4 linked regions of the Homo sapiens genome follow. The protein of the gene in region 2 interacts with the protein of the main gene of each other region in a pairwise test. Each region holds a gene or a part of one and is shown on either strand. Other genes may lie near its edges.

Region 1 (7,024 bases), on a different chromosome or scaffold from region 2:
TTATATTTGTCACATTAATCTACAAATAAAGCCAAAATTTTCCCAGTATTTTTCTGGTAAGAAGTCTCAGTTATATGATTTATTGATAGTGCATATATTATAGAAGGTGTGTTAAGATTTCCTGAAAGATTTTATTTATTTAGACATATTCTTGGTCTTATTTCATCAGAGATTGAAAGTTTTTTAGAATGTGGTTTATTTTTTTTCTCTCAGAATACATCCTTTTAAATTAAGATGAAATTAAATTATTTTCTTGCCTGTTCAAAATGATTGTAGGAACACTCTGTGAAGAAAAAGAAGAAAAAAGACAAGCATTCAAAAAAAGCAAAGAAAGAAAAGAAAAAAAAGAGCAAGAAACAGAAATATGAAAAAAACAATGAGTCATCTGATAGCTCATCAGTAAGTATGTACTAAAATTAATCAAAGCAGCTATTTGAGAACATTTTATTTGAATGTGTAACTTATGGGAAGTTAAAATACAAGAAAACGTAAAAAATATATTACTAGTTATGATATGAAAATATCTGGGATACATCTACTTAGAGATGTCCAGAAAATATTGGAAATGTTGATCTTGAATTTCAGAGAAAGGCTAAGAGGATAGGGATATGATTTGGGAATTATTGCTAAGCACAGCACTGGATCTTGCCCAAGGCCTGCTGTAACAATTACCTGGCTACAGCTGGTGTTCACTCAAGGCCCTGGGGCTCTGCAATCAGCAGGTGATGAAGCCAGCCAGGCCTGCGTCTTTCCCTTCAGGGTGGCAAGTTCCCCCAGGCCTGAGGGTGGGTCCAGAGGTGCCATCAGGGACCCAGGTACTGGCGTCAAAAACCTTAGACTTGTACCTGGTGTTCTATTGAACTGTGGCTGAGCTGGCATTCAACCTATGAATGGCAGTCCTTCCCACTCTTCCCTTTTCACAGGCAGAGGGGCCTCACCCTGTAGCCACCACCATAGACCCACAGGTAGTACTGGCAGGCTACCACTGATGTTCCCTTAAGGCCCAAGAACTCTTCAGTCAGCTGCCCGGCCTGGGACTCACCCTTCAGGGCAGTGGGCACCCCCTGGGCCAGGGCAGATCCAGAAATGCTATCCAAGAGCCAAGGCGTGGGGCTGGAGACCCCAAGATCCCTCTTGGTGTTCTACCACCCTGTGGCTGAGCTGGTACCTAAGGCGCAAGACAGAGCCCCCTTTACTTTTCTCAAGCAGAAGGAGGCTCTCCCCATAGCCACCACAGCTGGGAATGTGCTGAGTCTCACCTGAATCCAGCAAGTCTCAGATACACAGTGAAGGCCACAGTGTAGTACCCGATTATTGGTGCTGGTTATTCAGGGCCTAAGGGCTCTTTAGTGGTTACCAGCTATGGCTGAGCTGGTATTCAAGATGCAAGATGGAGTCCTGTATTTACTCTTCTCTCTCCTCTCCTCAAGCAGAAGGACAGGGTCTCTTTTGGAGCTGCACATTGTGCAGCCTTGGGTTGGGGGAGAGGTGGTGTAAGCACTCCCTTAGCTGCACCAGTTGCCCCCCAACCACCTGTCCATTGGCTCTGAGGCAAGTTTAGCACTAGGAGTCACCAAGGAATTCCACATCCTTGCTAGTACTTGGTATTGTCAGTCTTAGTAATTTTTAGCTATTCTACTGTGTAATGTCTCGTGTGATATTTCTCTGAAGAACAAGGATGTAGAGCATCATTTTAAGTCCCCATAGGGCATTCCATGTCTTTGTGAAATCTGATTTATTAAATATTTTCTTTTTTGTTTTTCATCATTTTTTCTTAGTGCTTCTGGTATCCTAATTTTTGCGCACCTCAAGATTGTGATTTCTCCTATGTTTATGTTATTATTAAATTTTTTTGTTTTTTGTTTGTTTTTAGAGATGGAGCCTCACTATGTTGCACAGACTGGAGTGCAGTGGCACCATCATGGCTCATTGCAGCCTCAAACTCCTGGGCTCAAGCAATCCTGCTGCCTTAGCAGCCCAATTAGCTATGACTACAGATGTAGTACAGAAAAGTTGTTTTTGTAGACATGGAGTCTTACTATATTGTCGAGGCTGGTCTCGAACTCCTGGGCTCTAGTGATCTCCTGCCTCAGCCTTCCAAAGTGCTGGGATTACGGGTGTGAGCCACCATGCTTGGCCTCCTATTTTTTTTCCCTAGAAGTTTTATAGCTTTGGCTTTTTTGCTTATTTATAATCCATTAATAATTTTTATTTATGTTGTGTAGTGTCAGTTTATTTTTTTCCCACGTGGATTTCCAGTTTTTCTAGCATCATTTGTTGAAAAGGCTGAATTTTCCCTATTGGAAGGAATTTAGGGAGATAGATATGTTAAAATATTCTTTCAATCCATTATGCACTTGGTACATCTCTCTATCCATTTATGTCTTTGATTTTTCTCACAATGTTCTGAAATTTTTAGTGTAGAGATCTTACATGTCGTTTGTTATTTTTTTTCCATTTTGTTTTCTGGAAGTGCTATCGTGAGTGGAATTTTAAATTAAATGTGTTTACAGCTAGTATGTAATTATAGAAGTGACTTGAAACATTAGGATCAGAAAAAAAAGAAAAAAGTGAAAAAAAACCTGCTTTTGATATATTCACCTTGCCTCTTATCACCATGTTAAAATTACTAATACTAGTGTTAGTAGCTTTTTTAGTAGATTTCTTAGGATTTCTAGGTAAATGGTATGTCATGTGTGAAAAAGACTTTTACTTTTTTCTTTTCAGTCTCTGTGCCTGTTTTATTTGTTAATTGTTGTTGCCTTATTTCAGTAGCTAGGACTTAAAAATAGTGTTGAATGGAAGTGGTGAGAGTGGACATGATTGCCTTTTTCCTTATCTTAGGTGCAAAGCATTCAGGTTTTTACATTTAAGCATGATGTCTGCTGTGGGACTTTCATGTATGCCTTTTCAGATTAAGGAAATGACATTTTATTTCTAGTTTTCTGAGAGTTTGTATCTTGAATGAGTATTGAATTTGGTAAGTGCTTTTTTTGCATCTATAAGTGTTAAAATTTGCCAGTGAAACGGTTTGGTCCTGGAGTTTCTTTGTGGAATGGGTTTAACGACAGAGTTAATTCCTTTAATAGTTGTGTTAAATACTTTCTGTTTATTCTTGAGTTAGTTTTAGTAATTTCGGTTTTTCTGGGAATTTATTCCATAGAAATTGTCAAATTTATTGTCATAAAGTTATTTGTAATATTTCCTTTGTTCTTTTAATGTTTACGGAATCCATAGTGATACCCCTCTTTCATCCCTGATTTTGGTAATTTCTATTTTCTGTTTGTTTCCTCTGTCAGTCTGTCTTGAGGCTTATCAGTTTTATTAATCTTTCTTTATTGCCTTTTAGTTTCCTTGAATTTTCTCTGGTTGTGTGTTTTCTATTTCATTGATTTAAACTATATTTATTCTTTGCGAATACTTTGTGTTTAATTTGCTCTTCTTTTTCTAACTTTCTAAGATGAATGTATCGCCACTGATTTGAAATCTTTTCTAACGTGTATTTATTTTATAAAATTTTCTCATAGCACTGTTGTATCTCTACGTAACTTTGATGTTATATTTTCATTGCTGTCCCATTCAAAATATTTTTTACTTTACTTTTTCTTACTCATGGATATATAAGAGTTTTTAAACTTGCAGATATTTGTGGATTTTTCTAGTTTTTTTTTGGGTTATTGACTTTGATTTTAATTATTATGTTATACTCTGTATAATTTCAGTTTTTAAAAAGTTTTTGAGACATTTTATTTTCTAGCCTATGATCTATTTTGGTGAAAATTCCATATGTATTTGAAATGAGTATGTATTCTGCCATTGTTAGGTATAGTGTTTTATAAATGTCAATTAGGGAAAGTTGACTAATAGTATTAAGTTTAGTGTTAATGATTTTCTGTTCACCTGTTCAGTCAGTTACTGAGAAAATAGTATTGAAATCTCTTAATTGTTTTGTGGATTTTACCTATTTCTGCTTTCAGTTTTGTCAGTTTTTGCCTTATGTAATTTTGAAGCTTTATTAGGTACATAGACAGCTCCTTGATGAACTGACTGTTGTTACGAAGTTTTCGTTTTTATCTTTGGTAATACTCTTGTCTGAAGTCTCTTGTATCTCATATTAATAAAGCCTCTTCAGTTTTCTTTTTTTGTGTGTTTTCATCGTCTTTTTAAAATTCTTTTAGTTTTAATGTACCTTTTTTATATATTGAAAGTGTATTTCTTGTAAGCAGTGTATAATTGGGTCTTGCTTTTTTATCTCGCCTATCAATTTCTTCTTTTTTATTTTATTGATTGATTGATTTATTGATTGATTGACAGAGTCTTGCTTTGTTGCCCAGGCTAGAGTGTAGTAGATCACTGCAGCTTCAACCCCTGGGGCTCAAGTGACTCTCCCACCTCAGCCTCTTGAAAGCTGGGACTACGGGTGTGCACTTCGACGTCCAGGATATATATATATGAGTTTTTAAATTTCCAGATATTTGTGGATTTTATTAGGTTTTTTTGGTTATTGACTTTGGATTTAATTATTATTTTATTGTACTCTGTATAATTTCAGTTGTTAAAAAGTTTTTGAGACATTTTATATTCTAGCCTATGATCTATATATATTTTGTAGAGATGTGGTTTTGCCATGTTGCCCAGCCTGGTCTCAAAGTCTTGACCTTAAGCAATCCTCCCACCTGGGACTCCCAAAGTGCTGGAATTACAAATGTGAGCCACTGCATCTGGCCTCTTCCTTTTTTTTTTTTTTCTTGAGATGGAGTCTCACACTGTCACCCAGGCTGGAGTGCAGTGCCGCAATCTTGGCTCACGTCTCTTACTTTTCAATTAGATGTTTTTTGTGCTCTCTAATCTGTTAGCTGTTTATGGCTTTTAAATTTTTTGTTAAAATTCATTAAAATTATATCAGCCAAATTTATGTGGCTACTATATTCGACAGTATATAGAAAAATTCTTTGAATAGTACTGGTTTGGATTATTTATGTTTAATGTAATAATTGATATGGATGAGTTTAAGTCTACCATGTTGTTATTCCTTTTCTATTTTTTCTTTGTTCTTTTTTCCTTTGTTCCTTCCTTTTCCTGTCTTTTGGATCGAGTGTTTTTTAGCATCCCATTTCATCTGCTGTAGGCTTATTAGGTATACCTTATTTATTTTTAATGACTGCTTTAAGTCTTATGCATATTTTAACTTACCATACTCTCAAATAATATATAATTTTACTTTTATAATTAGACTTTCACCAAAATATACTTCCATTTTCTCCTACCATATTTTTTGCTATTGTTGTCATATATTTTACTTCTACATATGTTATAAACCCACATTGTTTATAATTTTTAATGTCATACATTCTTTTTATTTATACTTTAGTCAGTTATCTTTTAAATAAGTTACACATATGAAGAAAGTCTTTTATATTTACCCACAGATTTATCATCTCTGATATTCTTTATTATTTTATGTAGGTCTGAATTTCTGTCTAATACCATTTTCCTTTTGTCTGTAGAACTTTCATTAACATGTATTATAATATGGATTTGCAGACATTGTATTCTCTCAGCTTTTGTTTGAAAATTTCTTTTATTTCATCTTCATTCTTTTTTTCTTTTACCACAAACTCAGAAGTTCCTACTAGCAATCTTCATTTTTCAGATACTTGGCTAGATAAAGAATTTTAAGTTTATAGTGTTTTCTTTTTTTTTTTTTTTTTGCACTGTAAAATGTCATCCCATTGTCTTCTGGTTTGCATTGTACATATTGAGAACTCTGTAGTCATTGTAATATTTTTTCTCTGTATGTAGTGTGCCTTTTTATTCTGGATGCTTTTAGGGCTTTTTTTTTCATCATTATTTTTCAGTGAATCAATTGTGATATGTCTTGGTATTGATTTCTTTGTGTTTATTCTACTGTCTTAGTTCATTTGGGCTGCTATACCAAAACTAACTGGGTGGATTATAAATGACAGAAACTTATTTCTCACAGTTTGGGAGGCTAGAAAGTCTAAGATCGAGGCGCTGGTAGACTTTGTGTCTGATGAGGGTTCAGTTCCTCAGAGATGGCTGTCTTCTCACTCTAACCTCATATGGCAGAAGGGAGTGCTCTTGGGCTATGTTTTATAAGGGCACTAATCCCATTCCCAGTCATCTCCCAAAGGCCTCAGCCCCTATTATCATTGTCTTGGGAGTCAGGATCTCAACATAAGAATTTGGTGGGGGACACAAACATTCAGAGTGTAGCATCTGCCTTAGGTTCATTGTGCTGCTTTGATTTGTGAGTTTACAGTTTCCATCAAATATGAAACTTTCAGGCTTTTTTCGAAGTATTTTTTTTTTCTGTTCCCTCTCATTTTGGTAGTCTCCTTAAAATAATGTCTCACAGGTTGATGAGCCTGTGTTCACTTACTTTCTAGCCTTTTTCCTTTCTATGCCTTGGGTTGGGTATATTTTATTGCTATGTCGTGAGCTTCAGGTTTACTGGCCTTTTTTTTTTTTTTTTTTTTTTTTTGTGACGGAGTCTCGCTCTGTTGCCAGGCGGGAGTGCAGTGGCGTGATCTCAGCTCACTGCAACCTCCGCCTCCTGGGTTGAAGTGATTCTCGTCCCTCAGCCTCCTGAGTAGTTGGGATTACAGGTGCTCATCACCACGTCCAGCTAATTGTTTGTATTTTTAGTGGAGATGGGGTTTCACCATGTTGGCCAGGATGGTCTGGATCTCCTGACCTCGTGATCTGCCTGCCTCAGCCTCCCAAAGTGCTGGGATTACAGGTGTGAGCCACTGCGCCTGGCCGACTGGCCTTTTCTTTTGCTGTGTCTAGCTTACTGTTATCCCTATCCAGTGACATTTTCATTTCAGGTACTGTATTTTTTTTTTATCATTAGATGTTTCGTTTGGATCTTTCTAATGTTTTTCAGTTTATCTCCTCATTATCTTTACATTTTCCCTTCCTTGAACATATTTATGATAGCTGTGTTAAAGTCTTGGTTTGCTGTTTCATTTTCTCTTGTTTTTTCCTGTTCTGTTTCAAT
Region 2 (8,012 bases):
TGCCATGCCCAGCCCCTGGGCCCATCTCCCAGGGAGAAAGCTCAACCACAAGGGGGAAGGAATTACATCAGTTTGGGCCCTTCGGCACCTCTTAGAATCCTGCCAGGCAAAGCCCGTTCATTAAGATAAGGCCAATAGTCCAGTCCTGACAAACACCAGTTTTGGGTCCAGGCCGCGTGGGAGGGGTGGCAGCTTGGAAGATGATGCCAACATTTTCCGAGGGGCCTGGCCTGCCATTAGATGACTCAGTGCGTTTCCCAGCACCTCAGCCAGGAGGCAGGGAGAGAGCCGCAGCCCTTATTAATTTTTTTCCTCTTGGGATAGGACTGTTTTGTCTTGGCACCAGGTCCACAGGAAAGCCTTCATTCATCCCCTCCCTGTCTGTGATCTCATCAGCCAGAGCACAGCTTCACCCAGGGAAGCAGAGCCCCAGAGCCTGAACGAGCTGTACCAGTCCATTGTCCCAGGCCACTGGCCTTGAAGTAAGACCTACTTGAGTTTAAGCCCTAGCTCCTCTGGGTCTCAGTTTACAATATGTACAATGGAAGCAATAATCACAGCCTCACAGGCTCATTGTGAGGACTGAGGGAGGGAAAGCATGTAAAGCACTTAGCACAGTGCTCTAGCCCAATACATGGTAGTAATTGCTAATACTCCCCCTTCTTGAGTAGCAATATAATAGTTGTTAATAGTGTGTTTTCTGGAGAGTTAGACAATTCGAACAGGGTGGGTTTGAGGCTTGAGGCCTCATCTTTCTAGTTGAGAGACTTTGGGAAACTTCATCTTGCTGAGTCTGTTTCCTCATTTAAAAAATGGGAATAACACTACCTATCTCATGGGATTACTGTGAGGATGAAATTAAGCAGACCAAGTGTTTAGCACAGTTGCCAGTGCATACAAGAGAACTTCGGAAAGTTCATAGAAAAATGGAATTAAAAGATAAAATTAAAAGATATAAACTTTATTTCTCAACGTAAGCTCCCTCAAGGTCAAGACACCTTTTTTTTTTTTTTTGAAACAGGCTTGCTCTGTCACCCAGTGGCATGATCTTGGCTCACTGCAACTTCCACCTCCCAGGTTCAAGCGGTTCTCAAGCTTCACCCACCTGAGTAGCTGGGATTACAGGCACATGCCATCACATTCAGCTAATTTTTCTATATTTTTAGTAGAGACGGGGTTTCACCATGTTGGCCAGGCTAGTCTTGGACTCCTGGCCTCAAGTGATCTACCCGCCCCAGGTCTCCCAAAGTGCTGAGATTACAGGTGTGAGCCACTGTGCCCAGCCAAGGTCAGGATACTTTCGTAACCATGATATCAGCCATTTATTTAGTACATCCCTAAAGAATTGAGGATCTGGGGATTTTAAGCATGTTAATGCAGTCTTTTTTACATTATTAACTGAAGAAAAATGGCTACCCTTTAAAGAGATATATATATATATTTATATATAAATATATATATTATATATAAATATAAATATAAATATATATATATTTAATGGCAGGCCAATATATATATATTTTTTGAGACAGAGTCTCGCTCTGTTGCCCAGGCTGGAGTGTAGTGGCGCGATCTCGGCTCACTGCAAGCTCCGCCTCCCGGGTTCATGCCATTCTCCTGCCTCAGCCTCCCAAGTAGCTGGGACTACAGGCGTCCACCACTACACCCAGCTAATTTTTTGGATTTTTAGTAGAGACGGGTTTTCACCGTGTTAGCCAGGATGGTCTCGATCTCCTGACCTCGTGATCCGCCTGCCTCGGCTTCCCAAAGTGCTGGGATTACAGGCATGAGCCACTGCGCCTGGCCTAAAGATTTTTTAAGATTAGGAAACAAAAAGTCTTCAGAGGGAGCCAAATTGGGACTGTAAGGTGATGTCTACTGATTTTCCACTGAAACTCTTGCAAAATTGCCCTTGTTTGATGAGAGAAATGAGCAGGAACTTTATCATGGTGGAAAGGTCTCTCTGATGAAGGTTTCCTGGGCATTTTTCCACTAAAGCTTTGGCTAATCTTCTCAAAACACTCTCGTAATAAGTACGTTATTATTCTTTAGCCCTCCAGAAAGCAAAATGCCTAGAACAACCCACAAAATGGTTGCCATGATTTTTGCTCTTGACTGGTTCACTTTGCTTTGACTGGACTACTTCCATCTCTTGGTAGCCACCGCTTTGTCTTCAGGATTGTACTGGTAAAGCGAAGTTTCATTCTTGGTTACAATTCTTCAAAAAAAAAAAAAGCTTCAGGATCTTGATCCCACTTGTTTAAAATGTGTGAAATTTTGAAAGCTCTGTTCTTGTCAGCAGCTGACCTGGGCACAATGGTTTTGCCACCCATTGGGTGGAAAGTTAGCTCAACTTTAATTTTTCAGTAAGGATTGTGTAGGCCAAATCTGTTGAGATATCTGTGGTGCTGGCTATTGTTTCTGCTGTTAATCATTGATCCTTTTCAATTAGCACATGAACAAGATTACTTTTTTTCCTCACAAATTGATGTGGAGGGTCTGCTGCTGTGGGCTTCATCTTCAACATCATCATGTTTCTTCTTAAAATGAATTATCCATTTGTAAACTGCTGACTTCTTTTGGGGCTTTGTCCTTTTACACTTTTATAAAGCGTCAATGATTCCACCATTTTTCCACCCAGGCTTCACCATAAATTTAGTATTTTGTATTGCTTCAATTTTGTAGAATATGTGTTCTGATAGGGACTCTCTTCAAACTGATTTCTTATCTTTCTTGGTGCTTCAAGCTAGATCCTGTTCAGACATGTTATAGCAAGTTAGAACAAATTTATTTTGGTGCAAACATTTATTTTATTTTTTTAGAGACAGGTGTCTCACTGTGCTGCCCAGGCTGGTCTCGAACTTCTGGGCTCAAGTGATCTGTCTACCTCAGCTTCCCAGAGTGCTGGGATTACAGGTATGGGCCACCATGCTTGGCCCTGTGCAAAAAAAAAATTGGAAATCCATGCATAGTTTTTTCATAATATGCATATTATTCATAATATTATTCATAATAGGCATATGTAATATGTTACCTTTCCCACAAACCCCATTAATCCCTTCTCTGATCTTTATTGATTTGGGTACCTCTTACAATCCATCTTGCATTGTTCCTGTTTATGTCCATCGCCCTCAAAAATATAAACTGGGCCTCCTAGGCTCACTTTGTTTTCACCTTGAGGCATGTCTTACACATTATTTTTGTGTTCACACCCACAAATCCAATCCTAAAAGCACTGAAATTGGAAAGGATTACATTGCGTGCCGCATGGAGGCTGGTGCCTGTAATCCCAGGACTTTGTGGGGGGCTGAGGTGGGAAGATTGCCTGAAGTCAGGAGTTCTTTTTTGTTTTGTTTTGTTTGTTTTTAGACGGAGTCTCACTCTGTCGCCCAGGTTAGAGTGCAGTGGTGCTCACTGCAACCTCCGCCTCCCGGGTTCGAGCGATTCTCCTGCCTCAGCCTCCGGAGTAGCTAGGATTACAGGTGCCCACCATCATGCCTGGCTAATTTTTGTACTTTTAGTAGAGACAGGGTTTCACCATGTTGGCCAGGCTGGTCTCGAAGTCCTGGCCTCAGGTGATTTGCCCGCCTCGGCTTCCCAAAGTGCTGCAGCGCCTGGCCGAAGTCAGGAGTTCTTGACCAGCCTGGGCAACACAGTAGACCCCATCTCCTAAAGGAAAGGATTACCTTGTACATTATACAGCAAAAGTTCTTAAAATTGTTTTTAAAATGTATCTCTTCCTTTAAGTTTCCACTCCCTATGTAAGTTGCCTATCCCTCTTTCCCTCCTTTTTGGGCTAGTATCGTCTCCAGCTTGCTTCCAAGTCCGCTAGGGAATACACACGCGCGCACACACACATACACGTGTGTGTTTACGTACTAAAAATATATAAACATTAATAATGCAAGATGGGGCCGGGCGCTGTGTCTCACGCCTGTAATCCCAGCACTTTGGGAGGCCGAGGCGGGCGGATCACGAGGTCAGGAGTTCGAGACCAGCCTGGCCAACATGGTGAAACCCCGTCTCTACTAAAAATACAAAAATTAGTCGGGCGTGGTGGCAGGCGCCTGTAATCCCAGCTACTAGGGAGGCTGAGGCAGGAGAATTGCTTAAACCTGGGAGGCGGAGGTTGCAGTGAGCCGAGATCGCGCCACTGCACTCCAGCCTGGGCAACAAGAGCGAAACTCCGTCTCAAAAACAAACAAACAAACAAACAAACAAAAACCAAGATGGATTGTAAGAGGTATATATATACACATAGGACTCCATTTCTTGGGGGACCTGGAGGGGAGAAAGTCACACCCATACACACACGTACACGCATGTATACAAAAATGAATATATGCTCAGATATATACAATATATAAATGGGCAAATATAAAATCCCCTTTGTGCCAACGAATCCATTCATTCATTCATCAAATATTTGAGCGTCCACTTTGCCTAGAACCAAGTTATCTGTTGGGATGAGCAAGGCATAAGAGGTTCTAGCTCTCATAGAACTTAGAATTCTACTGGAGGAAGATGAGAACAAATACAAAATGTAAACAGTGGAAGTTCTGTAAAAACAACACAGAGCTTTGTGAGAGTGATGCTTAGAATGCTCCTGATGTTCCATTGGGTGTTCGAGCAGGGGGAATGGACTCGGAGGTGAACTATGAGCCGAGATTCATTTTATAAACGGGAACACAGACACATGGACACTTGAAGGGCCTTGGTGGCCAGAAAACTGAAGGCAGGTTCCCATCCGTCTTGGCACCACTCTCCCGAATAGCAGTTTCAGGGAACTGCACAAGCCAAAACCAGCCGGTCGCAGAGTCCAGGAGCGCCTGCGCAAGAGGACGCCTGCGCAAGAGGACGCCGTCAGCTTGGCGTCAGCGCGCCGGGCTCTGGCCCGCCCCCTGTGACACCAGCCCCGCCCCACCCCGCCCCGCATACCCGTGCGCTGCCGCGCATGCTCCGAGCCCCGCCCCCGTGCGTCACAGAATGGCCTCGGACACCCAGGCAGTCCCTGACGTGTCGGGGAGGAGCCGGGCGCGGAGGTACGCTGAGTGGAGCTCGGGGCTGCGTAGGGGAGCTGAGCCGAGCGGCTGGGCGGGCCTGGCCGGGCCGGCGGAGGGGAGACGTCGGTTGAGCGGCGGCGAACATGCGCTTTTGACACATTGGAGGTGAGCCTGCAGCGCGGGGCCGCTCCCTAAGGGGCTGCGCTGGGCCGGCGGCGCCGAGGCCTGCCCTTGGGGAGCCTTCCCGGCCCGGGGCCGTGTCTGAGGCTCCGCCGGGGCGGGCCGGGCCGGGTTCCGGGGCGGCCAGCCTGGGGGCAACTGTTCCAACCGCTCTAACTGTCCCCTCCCTTCCCTGGTCCGATGTGTGGCCCCCCAGGGGCGCCTGCAAGGGAACGATTCCGGTGGCCTCCGGAAGATGTGCCCCGTTCCGGGTAGGGTGAGGGCTGGCGGTGACGGAGGCCGGGACGTGGCACCGTGGGCTGGGGCGCTGGCGGCGCAAGGAGTGGCCCAGTCGGAGGTGGCAGCGGCGCGCCCAGCCCGCCTCCTCCTACCCCCTCTTCGAAATTCCTTCATTTGCGAGGGTGGCTTGGAGCGGGGTTGCATTTTGATCTCTCAGTGCCTCTCTCCCATGGGGGGCGAGAGCGCGAGCAGCCCACGTTGGGCTCGGATTGGCATTCTCCTGACTCCCGCCCGGAACTGCTAATCATCCTCCCCCTGGAGTTCGGCAAAGTGTCACCAACGGGCTCGGGTTACTTGTGCTCGACTCTTTTCTTGCTGTAAGCCATGAGATGACCCTTTAAGTTTTGCAAAGGAGGTGAGAGTTCTGTCACCACTGATTATTACCTTCTATTTACGTAGCACCTTTACACGTTTCAGAGCACTCTTCTTCCTATCTTTTTCTAACCGCATCACCTTGTGGTTGCAACTGATTATGTTATCGCCATTTCGATGGGTAAATGGAGCTGGGATGGGGGTAATTATTTATACTTAGGTTCAACCAACTGGTGAGTGGTTTAGCTTGGATCATAATTTACATTTCTAGGCTCGGAGTTCTGGTTTCTTTTCGTGGGATTTTTATACCCTTCTCAGCTACAAAACAAGGCAGAAAATGTGACTTGCCAAAGATATGCCAGAAGCTGGTAGATTACTTACTCAATTATTTTTGAGAAAACTCACCTAGGATAAAAACGGCTGCTCAGTCATGAGAAAAATCTTCCTGTGAAGCTTGTTCAGGAGTTGCTGGTTAATTGCTTTGCTAAATCGTGAAGTTGATGGGCACAGTGCAGCGTTAAGTCATGGGCTGAAGAGAAGTAAAGGGAAACCAAGTGAAGTATTTCTTCTGAATTATTATTAAAATTATTGTTATTTAAAATTAGAGTGCGTGAGAAACAAAACCTTTGGCCAGCCCTGGTTAGAGGTTGACTTGATCCAGATAGAAGTTGCTAAATCTTCTGAAGCTGTAGTTCTTTTGATTTTTTTAAATTAAATAAATTGAAGTTGGATAAAGAGCTTAAAATAAGTAGGAACCTTAGTAAAACTTAGATCTTGCTTTCATGACATCTGCAAAACAACTTATTTTTGTTTTCATTTTAAACCATGCTGGGATAAATTTGGTTACTAAAGCTTAAAATTACTTCTGACGTAAGTTTCTGAGCACTCCATAAAGTAAAAAAGAAGTCTGATAGAATCAAAGAGAGACCGTGTTTATGATCAACTTTGAAGAGTTAAAAATTCTGTAAATGTCACCTTTGAGAGTAGTAGAATTTCAGTAAAAAGGCATATATTGCCAACAGTGAGTTCTGAAAGAACTCTTCTAACGTCAGTCCATTTTAGAACTGTTAACCAGAAACAATATCATTGAAAATAGATTTTCTTACCATTGTACAAAGAATAATTTCCTTGTAAATAAAAGGCATTTTGGACAGGCTGTTTTAAACTCAAATGAGTTGATTGTTGCTAGATTTCTGAAGGTCATACACAGTATGATAATGCTTTACGTAAAAATTGTCATGCTTTTGAGACTGTGTCCGTATTGAGATCTGGTATTAAAGAAAGATGGGGTGGGGGCGGGCAGAGAATAATAATTTTTTTTTTCTTTGATGGAGTCTCCCTCTGTTGCCCAGGCTGGAGTGCAGTGGCACAATCTCGGCTCACTGCAACCTCCACCTCCTGGATTCAAGCGATTCTCCTGCCTCAGCCTCCTGAGTAGCTGGGATTACAGGTGCGCACCACGATGCCCTGCTAATTTTTGTATATTTAGTAGAGACAGGGTTTCACCATGTTGGTCAGGCTGGTCTCGAACTCCTCACCTCGTGATCCGCCTGCCTCAGCCTCACAAAGTGCTGGGATTACAGGCGTGAGCCACCGTGCCCTGCCAATAATACATAATTATCTATCTTCATTCTAGCTTCAGAAAATTGTGGATGTACCATTAGAGCATTGTTTTAGCAGTATGTTTTCTATATTAGCTAACTTTCTATAGCCTGAATATCTCCAGTTACATAGTTTGAAATAAGTGAACACATCCTCCCAGTGTAACTTGAAGCAAACTGAACAGACTGTATAACAGCCCCTGAAACTGTCGTTTGAGTATCTGCAGTGGTAGCAAATTTTATTATTTGTAAATAATCTGATTTTTATTTTTATTTTTTTGGAGGCAGGGTCTCATTTTGTCACCCAGGCTGGAGTGCAGTGGAGTGATTACAGCTTACTGCAGCCTCAACTTCCTGGACTCAAGCGATCCTCCCACCACAGTCTCACGAGTAGCTGGGACCACAGGTGCATGCCACCACACCCAGCTCATTTTTGTATTTTTGTTAGAGATGGGGTTTCAGCATGTTGTCCAGGCTGGCCTTGAAGTTCCAGGCTCAACTGACATTCCCACCTCAGCCTTCCAAGTGCTGGGATTAATATGCGCGAGCCACTGTGCCTGGCCAGAATCTGATTTTTAAAAAGAGTAAATCTGATGGGTAAAAGTAGGGCAATAGAGCTGGATAATACCAGTTAGGA
Region 3 (7,024 bases), on a different chromosome or scaffold from region 2:
TATTTGTCCTAGGAGTAGGGAGGGGTACATAAGGTAATGGAGGAGACACAGCATCCAGCCCTTCTGCCCATATGCTTGCCTGTCCATCTGTCCACCCGCCATCTACCCGTGTATCCACCCACCCACCACCCACACATCCATCCATCCATTCATCCCTGCAATCAGCAGGTCAGCCCCCATTGTGGGAGGCACGTGGCAGGGGATCTAGAGATAGGATTTCTTTTTCCTCCTCTGAGAGCTTGCCACCTAATGGGCACACTAATAACTACAGAAAAGGCAGATGTCGTCAGTGCCCCAAGAGAGGCGTGTGCGGGCATTAGTTGGCGAGCGAGCCCATGCCAGCCCTTGGTCAGTCTCCAGCAGAGCCTCTTCCCTCATTCCAGCTGAGGCAGGGCTGGAATAGAGGTATTGGATTGTCTCAAGCCCTAGATAAAAATTTCTCCCCTACTTTCTCCAAAGCCAGATGATAAGCATTGCTGTCTGATACCCTGGTCCTGAGTATGCCAGTGTCACTCAGAGGAGAGTCCCTCTTCCCCTGATGTCTTATGTCCAAATGTAAAGCCAGGCCTTGGGGCTAGGGAATAAAGCCTGCACAAGAGGGGAGATGCAACCACAGCAAGGAGGCCCTCCTGCCACAGGGTGCACTGGTGGTCTGGGCCCCCCCGCATCCAGCCCAGGTTGGGGCAAGGCCTGCAGGAGACACTGGCATGTCACATAGAAAAGGAGAAGGTGAGAAGAGTGGTTCATTGGGCGCAGCAGAGCATTCCTGAGAACACTACTGGACTATCCTCGAGTGCGCGGGCCCTGAGTGGGCTTTCTAGGCAGAGTGGGAAGGCCCCTCCCCTCGGCACGGAGCCCCAGGGGCACCAGATGTGCCAGGATGACTTCTCTTGTTTGTCTCCACCAGGAGCAGCCTGTCAGTCATCAGTCAGGTTGGGAGTCGAGCCCTCAGCCTGGCTGTTCTCCATCAGTGGCTGCCTCCCCAGCCTATCCCCGGTCCCCAAGGGTAAACTCACCATGCCGTCTCTTCCCGGGGAGCTGGAGCGGCTGGGCCCAGGGGCCTGACCCTTTCCCGTCTCCCACAGCGTGTAGCGGCCAATGGGTCGGTAGGTTGGGCTGATGATTTCAGGGACTCGTGAGGGAGGGGCCTGGGAGGGCACCTGAGATGCACTGCCCTTGCGACCATAGTTCTCCAGGTAGTCGACCAGGTATTCAGGGCAGCTGGCTGTCTGGTAGAGCCCCTGCAGGGTGCAGAGCTCCTTGCGCGTCCGGGCCAGCATGGGGCTGCGGCCCAGGTTCCTGGGGTCTATCCGGTAGCTATCTGAGGTCCGGAGGCTGGAGAAATCCCGGGCCAGGTCTGATTGGCTGTCCAGCTTCTGGGTTAGGGTCACCCCCTGGTCATAGGCATTGATGGGCAGGTAGCTGAGGCAGTTGTTGGTCACTCCATAAGGGAATCCGCTGCCCCCGCTGAGGCCACTGCCTAAAGGCCGCTCAGTACCCCGGGTCTGGCTCTCTGCCCGCTTACCACCCCCAGTGATGTCGGGTCTCAGCAGGGGGCGGCCCCGGTCATAGTCCAGGAGGGAGGAGGGGCCATAGGTACGGGGACGGGTGAGGAAGCTGCTGGTGGGGACCGGCTTGAAACCAAGTTTCTCCTTCTCCAGTAAGGAGGCAGCCAGATTGGCCCCATAGGAGGACGGGGTGTAGGCACCATAGCCCGACTTGGCATAGTGGGCATCTGTGTAGCGGGCCGATTCTGTGTAGCGCTTCAGGGTGGAGGAGAGCTGGGACATCCTTCAGGGTGGCACTCAGTGGGGACTGGGAGCCTCATGGGCTGAAAGACAAGGAGTGTAGTTGTCAGAGGGCCCTGCCAGGTGTCGGGCTCCCACAGACCTGCTCCCCATCCTCAGCTGGGCCAGAACCTCAGAGCTCCCAGTCCATTTCCACAAGAGGCAGGCTGGCTGCTGAGAAGCACACATGCACGCAGGTGTGCACAGGAGCTTGCTTGCACCTGTGTGTTCACACCTCGGTGAGAGTGCGAGGGATGAGGTGGCTTTTATATGCCACACAGGAAGTCAGCGCATCCTGGCCATTCAAAGACTCAAACACGCAAGCAGGGGCTATCTGACCTCCACAGCCCACCAAGCCGTGCAGTCTTCCAGGTCAAATCCCATTGCCTCAGCATCTGCAGAAACTCTTGAGCTGGGGGAATGCCACTGACCCCTGGGTTGAGAATGCTGGATATTTCAGGAGTTAAGACCACATCTGTCCCTTCTGACTTATGTGATGAGCAGGTGTCTTTTTGGAATCCTAGACTGTCTGTGCTGGAATGACCTGAAGATCATTTGGTCAGATCCCCTGTGAGGCCAAGGAGGCTCAGGGGAGGAAGTAATGGGGTGTGGGTGGGCAGGGGAGGCCGTGAGTGAGCATGCAACAATGAGGGGCCAGAACGTGGTCTCCAGACCCTTTCCCCAGACACCAGCACCTGCTGCATGGTCCCACAGTGAGGGACACTCACTTCACTGAGCTAAGCTTCTGTTCTAAGTGGAGTTAGGGCCCTGTGGCCTCCTAAGAGTTCCTCTACCAACACAGGCTTCCTCTACAAACACAGATCTCAAATTGGTCCTGGCGATGCTTGTGCAAAGGGGGCCCCCTACAGTCCCAAATCTTGCACTGCAGGTGGCATTCCCAGTCCTTCCCTGCTCCAGTCCTGCAGCTGGGGAGGGTCTAGTGAAGGAACACAGACACTGCTGAATGTGGAGCTTTGAGAGCCCCAGAGGATCATGAATTTTAATCTATCTGTTATACAGATGGGAAAAGTGATGCTTATTTGCCCCCGGCCACACACCAGCAGAGCCAGGACTGGAATCCAGGTCTTTAAAATCCTGGCCAGTGTTCTTTCTACTTAACCTGGAGTTACCTCCCCCGCATCAGATTTAGGGTCAGTTGGGGACCCCCAGAGGCCTTCCATCACCGTAAACGTGCAGCCTGTATCCAATGGAGCTGGAGTGGCAGAGGAGCAAGTAGGGTCAGACGCCTTTCCCCGAGGGCATCAGGGGCTCTTGGGGGGCTTTCTAGGGGGATGGAGCAGAGCCATCCAGGACTCTCAGAGTTGTGGGACTTGCCCTGTGATGGACTAGCTGGGTGATTTTGCACTAGTCACGTAACCTCTCTGAGCCCCAACTTCCTCATCTGTAAATGAGTAAAACCATCATCCTCATAATTCCTACCTCACAGGGCTGTTGTGAGGAATAAATGAGATAACAACACGTGAAGGGCTCCACAATGACAGTGGCTACCATCTCCTCCCCCAGCTACTGCGAGGCAGCATGGCTCCGCCCTCTGAAGGTCTGTGATAATATCAGGGCTGGCTGTCTCCCAGCCTGGCCAGCCTCTGGCCTCAGCTTGGGATGCCAGGCCTCCCCCTGCAGCCCCCAGCGAGAGAAACAGGCAGTGGGCAGACATCTGGCCACTCAGCAGACACTGGCTTGGCAACCCAGCCCATTAGGGCAGAGAGGAGCTGGTGCCAAACCCCAAATGCGAGGGCTTGGCAGAAAGCTCTAGAATCCCAGTCCACACAAGGCTTTGGGGTAGGTACAGGGGTGAGAGATGAGCAGGTGGCTTCCATATAGGCCCGGAACAGCATTCCTTGACCCTGCCTGAGAACTCCAGCAGTTTTCAGTCCAGGCTGACATCAGAAAGGCCTGGTCCATCTTACTGTCTAGCCTTTTGCCACCTGGCCCAGGGGGCCCCTGGCCCTTCATGTACACTCCTTTGCCCACTGTGCCCAGCACAACTTTCACCCCTTTCTAGGAAAAGGTAACTGGGGGATGATGTCACACAGCGTTAGAGGGAAACCATAGCGGGAGAGACAGACAGAGGCACAGGGTCGGGGTGGGGGCCCAGTCCTGCCCTATTTTGCTTTGGAGAACTCCATCAATAATGCAAAGTCAAAGAGACTCCAGGTCTCAGGAGCTGGGCTCTGGGACACCAGGCAGCCAATCAGATACAATCCCCCCAACAAGGGTATGAGCTCATGGCTCCTCCCCACAGCTCTCCCTCTCCCTCCCCCACAGTAAGGCTCTCAGGGAATTGGTATTCTTCGGGCAGCGCCCCAAGCCCGTGACATCCCTTGACCCTGCTGATGACGCAGAAGTGCTGGGGCCAAACGAGGTCCAGAGGACAGGGACAGACAGCTCTGAAAGGCTTTGGAGCCGGAGGTGGGGCCACATCTCTGGCCCACAGATTCCCAGGAGGGCTCCCAAATCCCCACTCTCCCTCCCATCTGGCAGGTGATTGCCAGACCCCTCCGCCTCCTCCTAGCAGCCCTGGGAGTCATGCCATCACTAATACTCCATGGAAGCTGCCTCTCGGCTCTGACTTCTAGCTACAGTTCCCATGCCTGCGGAGAGGGTTCCTACTGGGGCCGGGGCCTTCCACATGTCTCTCCCCTCCCGCAACCCCCAGTTTCACTCTCAAAGGTCCTAGCACCTTCCAGGTGAAAGCACAGCCTGGGTTGGTGCCCCTTGGCATTACCTGCACAGCTGTCCCTGGAGGCCACAGAATGCACTATGGGCAGGAGAGCGGGCTGGGGCCCTGGCCGGAGTCTCGCTGCGCAAGACAGGGACAGGACGGGCACTCACGTGGCTGCGAGTCTCCCTGTTGCCACAGGAACAGCCTGAACTGAATGGCCCTTTCATGGGGCAGTGGGAGGCAAGCCAATTGGCTGGGATCCCCCATACCCCTCCCTGCCCAGTGCGGGGGGCCCCTGCTGCCCAGCTCCTTTCACTGTTTACCCAGAGCTGGCAAGTACAGGCATGCAGCTCCAGGCAGCGCCTCTCCAGGTGTCCGCCACCTTGGACAATGGGGGCAGTCCCCTGCCCAGCTCCTCCTCCTGGCCATCTTCACTGAGGTGTCCTGACCCTTCCTTCTCTGTCAGAGATTCCTGTTGCTTTGCTCAGTTTCCCTCTCCTGGGAGGTGCAGCAGAGTTCCTCTGCACAGAGGCACTGGGCTTCCTGTCAGGGCATCTGAGCCAAGCAGCTGTCACCCCAGCTGGCTGGTGCTGATCACCTCTGAACCAGGCCCCAGGCATGTTGAGTACTTCACATGCAGCTTCTGAGTCCATCTTCTCTGCAGTCTCACATCAGCTCTCATCGGCCCTTGCCATGTGACGCATTCTTCTAGATGTGCTTCATACACAGAGCACCCCAAAAAGTCTTAGTGCAGGTTTAAGCTGGGATTCTTTCAGACATAAATGTCTCCAACTTACACACCTCTTTGGACAGATTAAATTATTTAAATTAAAATTTAAAAACATTTTCACAATTAAAAAATAAATATACAAGAAATTTAAATATGGAAACTTTCAAATGAAGTTTTTAGCATTCATATTTCTGAAGTTATTAAAGCTTAAAACTGCACTAAGGCTTGGGACACAGTGCATTAACTCACTGAATCCTCCCTGCTCCTTTAAGCGGTAGGTGCTGTTATCACGTCCATTTGCAGATGAGGAAGTTGGCGATGCTGGGAGTGATGTGGATTTCCCAAAGTCACACTGGGAGCAGTGGCAGAGCTGGGCTGGACTCGTGCTCTGTCTGCTATATCTGGCCTGAAGCCCAGACCCCTGCTTCACTCTTCCCTGGCTCTCCATGGGACGGGTCAGGACTGGGACCTGTGGGTGGGGTTTGAGGGAAGGACCACCACAGGATCCAGGTGTCCGTCATCCAGTAACAGCATGCGGTGTACAGACTCTGGCAGGAGCAGCCCTCTGGATTTTCCACTGCAGGTGAATGAAAGTGAAGCCAGGTGCAACTCGAGCCCCAGAACAATACTGATAGGCCGAGAGATGGTCCAGGAAGCCTCCATTTCACCCACTGTGCCAAGCCCCTGCATGTCCCCTGGCACCAGCATCTACCCCAGCTCGGGGCCTTGGGTCCCTGGCCTGGTTATGAGCAAGTCCCTAGCCTCCTACCCTGGCTGCAGCTTGGCCCACTCCTCAAGGTACCCATGCTGGGTGAGTCAGGGGTTAAAATGAACCCTGTCCCCGTGGGGCAGCCAACCCCTTTGCTTCAGCCACTGTCATTTCCTGTTGCTCACATGAAGGGCTCCCTAACCTGCCCAGCCAGGGGAGGGACTTGCTCCCCAGGAATTCCAGGCGCTCCTGGCCCTGGGGGCAGGGGATGGGTGATGCCCCACATCCCAGTAACCTTCATGGCTTCTCTCTGCCCAGATCTGCTTGGCTTTCTGGGGTGAAAGCCTGCTTTGCTACTGGGGCCTGGATAGAGAGCCTCTAGCTGAGTTTCAGAAGCACGCCTAAACAGGGTTAAGTCTCTTCCCTCCTACTCAGGTGCCCGGAAAAGGTGAGTGGGGAGTCCCAGCCAGTCCCGCCAGGTGGTTGGGAGCCCCCACAGTGGTGACCTCAGAGCTTCCTAAAGCCACTTGCTAACAGCATCAGAATGTGCTGACCTTGAAGGACAAGGTGGGTGAGAGGGGGCCCTGTATCCTTCCATCTGCACTCTGACCCTGCCTCCCAGCTGCTTGGGTCACCTGCTGCACTATCTGGGCACAAGTGTCTGGTCCTGGAGGATGGGATGAGGGAATCCTGGCAGGTGTAGAGGACATGGGTAGAGTAGGGGATGGGGGGGCGGGGGCATATTTATGCTCAAACAGTCCTTGAACTCCGCCTACTCCTCTCAGGCCCCAGGGCCTGGGCTGGCCTCCTCCCCTCCAGCCTGTCACTAGGCTTTGTCTATCAGGGGCTAGCACCCGCTGATCCACCAGCCTAATCCTCTTGCCTCCCCTGGCAGGGGGTCATCCAAGGGAATTTGGGTCCATTTCTCTTTCTTGTGCTCCCAGTAGTTACCCAAGAGCTGGGGGAGGGGAGGAGGTAAGATAAAGAGACTGGAGATTAAGGCAAGAATCCTGACTGGTGGAGAAGAAGTGGATGGGCCCAGGGCAGTTTCTATAGGGTGCTCCTTGATTTGGGGTTGTGAGTGGGTGGGCATCTATACACTTCCAAGACAAGGC
Region 4 (7,024 bases), on a different chromosome or scaffold from region 2:
AAGACATTTACAGTTACCAAGAGGGCTTATGGATCATAGAGATTTCCAGATAGGCTTCCGAGTCTTGGTATCTTAGAATGTAAATTAATATTTTTAATTATTTTTTCTCTCATTTTATTGTGATTTTTTTCCCTGTAATTCTAGGTTGACAATCACTCCAATTTTTTTAGGCAAATAGAAAGACAAACTACTACCTGAAGATTCATAATGCTAAGAAACTCATACAGAGTTAGCCATTCAGAGGGAATGGAGTTTTGTTACTTACTTTGGCCAGTTATAGAGATGTTATTCCACTTTTTATCAGGTAGCTGAAAATTTTAAAGAATTACAACTTTTTATTCATTGACCACAATTTTTGTTTAAAAATGTTTTCTTTTCATCCTAAAAGTACATTGTAGGATCATGCAAATCAATGACTGTGTATAACAGAACTGAAAAATTTTATTCAAGGAAAAAACTAATATTCTGTATGTCAGATTGGAACTTTGTTAATTGAGCTATAGTGAAATGGAACCTGGAAATTTTATATTTATATAAATCTCGAAGTCTGTTAGAGATACCATTATGGGGGCAGATTGCATTCAGAGAGGCATACATATATATCAGACCTATTTTCATGAATTTCTATAAGTGAACTAATATTCATAATTATTTGTAAACCTAATTAAGATGAAAGTCACTTATAGTTTTCATATATATGAGAAAGTGATAATTCTGAATTTATTAGAGACACTGTGTTTTAGTTGTCTATCTCATGCTTCCATATAAAGGGCAGACAACTAGTAATCAAATTCTCTTTCCCTAGAAATCTATAATGGAAACGGAGTTAATAATTGGTATATAGAATTACATTTCATTAAACTTACACATAATCTTAAATACTAAAATGTGTATTAGAACAAAATGAGAAGCTGTGTTCTGTAGAAATTTCCTGTCAAGATGTCTAGACTTGTAATTATGAATTCTATTTCTATGGTTGGAAATAAACAGGTATAATCAAGAAATTATCGCACCTCAAGGTGAAAAGGTATACAAGTGATTTAGAGCTTAGTCAAAATTTCAGTTGAATTTCTTCCTATATTAAAAAAATAATAATTCCCTCTTCTTTCCCACCTTCCTTTTATCCTAAATCTACATAACCCAATGACAGGGACTAGTAGACAAACAGATCTGTCACCTTTGCACCCTCTATAAACCTTTATCACTGGAGCATGTGCATAAAAACGTCCTTGGCTCCTGCTCTGAAACTCAAAGGACAGCTGCCTTTCTGCCAATGCCAGGATGTTACCAACACTTCTTAGCCTGAGTCCCTTTCCTCTACCCCGAAGGCTCCTTGACTCCTACAGAAGTCTGCCTCTTTCCCTAGGTGTTTAAGTTACTATTATTGCTCTGTTAGGTGGATAATGCCATGTGCTAGTTTCTCTTATCCCTCATCCCTCCCCTGTTCTGTGAGTGAGATGTTCTCACCTTCCAGGCCCTGATCCCACCAATCCAAAGCTACCTGGATTTCTCCAGAAGACTGCATGTCTGAAAATAATCCTGGCAACATTCTTTGAGTTGTTAAGTGAAGCACCTGGCTTTCAACAACTTTCTTAAAAAGTAGCCTGTTTTAAAGAAACAGTGTGTGAGAAGTGTAGATGATTACATAGATAAATTCTAGAAATGAGGCGGAAGAAAATGCCTCAGTTTATTTGGAAAACAGGTTATTTATAATTTTCCAACTACAAAAGGAAAAACAAGATTTTATGAATTTTGAAACAATTCGTAAAGACCCCCAATAGAATTGATCTAACAAAAAGACTGTCATGTTATTATATTTAGTACGGCACTTGAACTAGAGTAGATGCTCAATAAATATTTGAGTTGAATTGAGTTATGCATTTGTATAAAAAGAATTCTGAGTAGAGATTTATTTGATATACGCTTTCTCCTATATGAAATTTGTAGGACAGTTTTCTGTGCTCTTCAGGACACTGAAAACAGTAAAACCGTGTGAGACAGTGACTATAAATAAAATAGTGTCTGTTTCTGCTGCAATTTAGTGTAGTTTACTTTTAGGTTATTGTAAAGAATTGGATGATTTCCAAAGCCTTTTTGAGAGACATGGCATCATTAAGAAGACTAACATAAAATCCTAATATTTACAGTGTACCCACCTTCTAACAAATCTAAAAAAAAATGGAAATACTCAAATGTCAAAATGAGTTGCAGTGTGGCCTGTGGTTCTTCCAAAAAACAATAGGGCAAGCCCAGATGACCTGTTACATTTATTGAGCTGTACCTTGGAAAAGATTCATATAATTTTATCTCCTTTTAGATTGCCTTACATAATTTCTGACAACAAAAGTAAATGCCATGGAATTAAAAACTATTTGACTGTTACACTGCATCACAAAGATGCCTTCGTCCTCCATGTATTGCATATTGTTTTCCTTCCTAAATGGTAGTGACCTGCTTAGGACTCAGCAAATACCTTCAAATGGTTCGCAGGATCTTATCAACAGGTGTGAGGATAATGTGCCGTAAAGCTAGCAGAGGTTAACACTGCTGGAGAAAAGGAAGCTTGGAAAGAAAGTACATGGCATTCTAGGTCCTAGAGCATGCAAGCATGTATCTAGGAAGTTGAAATCCACTGTCACATAATTGTTGGAGATATTCATGAGTGAAATTGTGTCACCTGAAACATAATGATGATAGGAAGTGTCAGAGTTCACCTGTAAGTTGTCAGCCTGCAAGTCATATTTTATTTCTCTAGATCTCATTAGAAGTATGTACTTCACTATACTTTAGTACAGCAAACAACCATTTATCTGGAATATGGTTAATAGTCATTAGAAACAGTAATTCTCAGTAATTCTCTGAACTTTAGTATAGCAAACAACCATTTATCTGGAATCTAGTTAATGGCCATTCGAAAACAAACACAGTTAGAACCAAAATGATTCTTAATATGGTGGCAATCCAGAAAGCACTGGCCACCTTGCATGGTCTTTGGCTTATCATAGTGGACATTGATTACCACTTACAGTAGCGAAGCTCTGGAAGGGGCAGAAAACTGATTGGTCAGACATTGATATGATACTCTAACTTATCCTGGAATTTGCCCAAAAAACTTGTCAGTTTGCTCCTATTGTGTGGCTTTTTCATTCAAAAGCAAACATTGTATGAATGGTTGCTATTTGTGGTTCAGTTTGAATTATGATTATGCTTGCATTTACTAAAATAATATGGCCAATGTTCAGAATAGAAGGTTATGGTGATGATAACTTACAATTTAAAACATAGCCATAGACTACACAGATGGGCATTAATGCCAATCACAAAGCTTTACTCATCTCTGGAATTGTACTAAAAATAATAAAATAAAATAAAATAAAATAAAATAAAATGAACAGGAATAGATTAAAACAGTCCAGGGCAATTATCCAGATAATTATGGAGAAATATTTTTACTCTGCAACAAAAAAAGCAAAAAAATAAGAAGTTTAATTTTTCAGCTTAATTTTTCAAGAATTCTTTTCTCAGTTTATTAACATATTAAATAATTCCCAGCTTTTTGCTTCACATTGTCATACCTACTGGCAGAGTCTGGAGTCTAGGAGTCCTTTTCGTAAAAATTCTGGAGGCATGGCTTTGCCATCTTTTGGGTGGATACTGGTTAGGGCAAAACCACAAATGGCAGATATGTATTCCATGGGACTTCTCTCCCAGCAGAGCTTCCATCTTGCTTCCTTTCAGGGAAACTCTTTTAACAAATCCTCTGCTAACTGCAACTTATTCCAAACTATAATCTTGGTACATATCATGGCAAATAGGGGAGGAAAAAAAGTTGTCCTGAGAAATGTTGGAGGAATATGGTGATGAATCTCTGCAAAAATAGGACAATCTCCAAAAACTGGGGCAATTATGCAATAATTAGTAAAATAATCCCGAAATAACAGCAAAAACTACAAGTGCCAACCTTCAGTAGGACGTTGACTAAGGCTGGCCTGAGCCAAGCTATTTTCATGTTTCAAAATCAACTTTAAAGAAGGTCGAGAAGCAAAGGACTTGAGGTTACTACGGTGTCCTGAAAGGATGCCTCAAAAGAAATGTTTAAAGATATTTTAAAACATGAGCCAATAGTTAGTATATTAAGAAGTTATCCTTAGTAAATTAATACATCTCCTCCTTTCTGTGGGAAATGTTAAATTCTCTTACTTTACTGAGGGCAGGTACATCTATTTCACTATTATAGTAAGTGGCTATTACACTATTATCGTAACATGAAGGAAAGGATACTCCTGTATGTGGGATCGTTATGATACCATATGACAAACTGAGTGATTAATATTTTGGTCAAATTAATTGAAAAAAATACACTTTGAGAATTTGTTATGTACATAGCATTTTAGTAGGTACTGGGGGCAAATAAAGACACATACTTTGTACTTTTAAGCAATATGTAACCTCTCTGGGAAGAAAAAACATGTAAAGCTGAGTAACTATCAGAGGTCATATGCAGCTAATGAGGACACTGTTTACCAGTGCTAGAAGCTGGGGACAGGTGGGCAGCTGTGGGCTACTCAGTGTTGTGTAGGAAAGACATTGCCTGCTTGGTTAACTGAATTCAACATTTATTGTTCCATTTTATTCATTATTCATTTCAAAATAATTCTACTGTGTGTATTGTAGCAATTAAGTACTTCACTCATGATCATACAACTGGTAAGTGAATTAGTCGCTTTTTGTGTGTGTGTGTGTAGACAGTTACCAACCTAAATCTAGGGAAAGGCAAATGTATAAAAAAAATCAAATTCTGATAATTAAAGATAATTCCATCTATGGTTTAGAAAATCTCGATTAAATATAACAAAACAGGCAATTAGGAACAGAACGTTAAGATGGAAGAATAAACTTTCTGAAGTCAAAGACTTTAGTTAACTAGATGTTTGCTTAGAGTACTTGGCCCTGATAAAAATAATTGCTTTCTGATGTGTTTGTATTCTCCCAGCACAATTCTGTTTTATTTTGTTTTATTTTTTGGTGGCAATAGATGCAAAAGTTTTTTCTTTACCCGTCTTCTTCAGAGAAAGACATTTTGCCCGCAGATGTTTCATTTCCAACGATTCTCTTGTTCTCACTCACCTACATTCCCACAGCAGTAAAATTAAAGCAAGGCTCAGACATCTAATCTTCTGTGCTCAGTAATACAAGCCAGACAGATGAAATTTCAAGAGTTCATATTTATTCCAGGGATTGTAGATTTAGCCATTTCTTATTCTGAGTCCTAAGGATGTCTTATTGCTTTTCCTCCACCAAAGCTCCCTATTGTGGTGAGGCTGGAGAGTGCCAGGATATTGACTTCCTGATCTCCTATTTTCTGACATATATATTATGCTACCATGAAAAAGCAGACCAGGCCAGGCACGGTGGCTCACGCCTGTAATGCCAGCACTTTGGGAGGCCAAGGCGTGTAGATCACCTGAGGTCAGGAGTTGGATACCAGCCTGGCCAACATGGTGAAACCCCGTCTCTACTAAAATTACAAAAATTAGCCAGGCCTGGTGGCGGGCGCCTGTAATCCCAGCTACTTGGGAGGCCGAGGCAAGAGAATCACTTGAACCCAGGAGGTGGAGGTTTCAGTCAGCTGAGATCGTGCCATTGCACTCCAGCCTGGGCGACAAGAGCAAAACTCCATCTCCAAAACAAAAACAAAAACAAAAACAAAAACAAAAAACAAAAAAAAAAAAAACCAATTATCTATTCATCAAACTCTGTTCTGAGTAGGAGGCACCATGGAGAGGGAAAGAGCACTGGTCTATGTGGTATCAGAAAGATTTGGCTTTGAATCTAGGTTCCCCTTTTTTCCTAAGGTGATTTAAAGCAAACTGTTTAATTTTCTCTGAGACCCTCTGTCCTCATCTGTAAAATAATAAGAACAAATCCAGCTCAGAGATTTTGCAATTGTTTTGAGATTAAGATAATGCATTTGAAATTGCTTTGGAAATCTTAAACTATTACCCAGATAGACATATTATTATTATTACCACTCAGTAATATAAAACACCTAGAAGGCTTCATCAGCTTTACCACTAATAATACCCTGAGGCATTAATAAAGGTAATTTTTCTCCTTTTTTCCCCTCCCCCTAGCACCTTCTACTATGAAGTGCTTCAGACATTAGAAAATGTGGCTTAATGAAAACTGAGGGGTGGGGGAAGCCTAAATAAAGAATTTAATAATGGCTGATTGATTTAGTGACAAAGAGAAATTGCTGGTGTTATGCTGCTCAGTGCGATGCCAAGATGCTAGTTTTTTCTTGTCATGCTGAAAAGGTTGAAAAGTAGAGGGATATGACCTATTTGTCATTAAGTTGATCTTTGCACTGACTGAAAGCTATGGTAGAGGAGGAGATGCTGAGAACCCCAGCAAAGAAGCATGGGTCAGGTAGTCACCAAAAAAATTGCATGGCCAGAGGCAGGAGAAGAAGCTTCTCTGATCTAAAAAATTGAGGGGGCTCCTGATTGCAGGCAGGGTGCCACCCCTCCACAGTGTGGCAGGACAAGGCTCTTGTCCTCTTTCTGGTCCAGGAGCATGTTTTGTATTGGGCTGACAGGGAAGCCTTAAGTGAATGTTATATTTAAATGATGCCATTATGGCACTTTGATGACTGTAAATGTAGATATAGGTAAAATAAAGCAGCATGGTCTATGCCCTTGGGAAATAGTTTGATTTTAACATATATTATTGTGCACCCACAGTGTGCAGCGAACAGTATTTGGTGCTGAAGATAGAAAGTGGTATCAAACAGTGAAAGAGTTTTTAAGCTAAGCTTATATGTCTGGGGCCATAGAACAAACACTGAAGCACTATAATTTCAGAATATGAGAGAGAGGGCGCTGAGGTCTCCAGCAGGTCAAGACAATCTTGCAGAGCAGGGAAAGCTGGTGGCGGGCCCAGAGGAGGGCAGAACTTAGGTGAGGTGAAAAGGAAGGGGAATGTTCCCCTAGATTTAAGTGAACATAAAGCATCGGAGTGTACC

What was found.
Region 1: the proteins of NDEL1 (region 2) and CWF19L2 interact in binary tests that used the Homo sapiens proteins (3 or more experiments, as listed by UniProt).
Region 3: the proteins of NDEL1 (region 2) and USP2 interact in binary tests that used the Homo sapiens proteins (3 or more experiments, as listed by UniProt).
Region 4: the proteins of NDEL1 (region 2) and CLVS2 interact in binary tests that used the Homo sapiens proteins (3 or more experiments, as listed by UniProt).

The regions. Positions count from the first base shown.
Region 1 is NC_000011.10:107,447,825-107,454,848, reverse strand, and holds part of CWF19L2 (CWF19-like protein 2), read left to right. Parts: intron 1-276; coding exon 277-399; intron 400-7,024.
Region 2 is NC_000017.11:8,430,878-8,438,889, forward strand, and holds the start of NDEL1 (nuclear distribution protein nudE-like 1), read left to right. Parts: upstream 1-5,006; 5' UTR 5,007-5,168; intron 5,169-8,012. UniProt on the Homo sapiens protein: Required for organization of the cellular microtubule array and microtubule anchoring at the centrosome. May regulate microtubule organization at least in part by targeting the microtubule severing protein KATNA1 to the centrosome.
Region 3 is NC_000011.10:119,371,691-119,378,714, forward strand, and holds part of USP2 (ubiquitin carboxyl-terminal hydrolase 2), read right to left. Parts: exon of another isoform or gene 4,534-7,024; intron 1,832-4,533; 5' UTR 1,791-1,831; coding exon 1,017-1,790; intron 1-1,016. UniProt on the Homo sapiens protein: Hydrolase that deubiquitinates polyubiquitinated target proteins such as MDM2, MDM4 and CCND1. Isoform 1 and isoform 4 possess both ubiquitin-specific peptidase and isopeptidase activities.
Region 4 is NC_000006.12:122,999,231-123,006,254, forward strand, and holds part of CLVS2 (clavesin-2), read left to right. Parts: intron 1-7,024. UniProt on the Homo sapiens protein: Required for normal morphology of late endosomes and/or lysosomes in neurons. Binds phosphatidylinositol 3,5-bisphosphate (PtdIns(3,5)P2).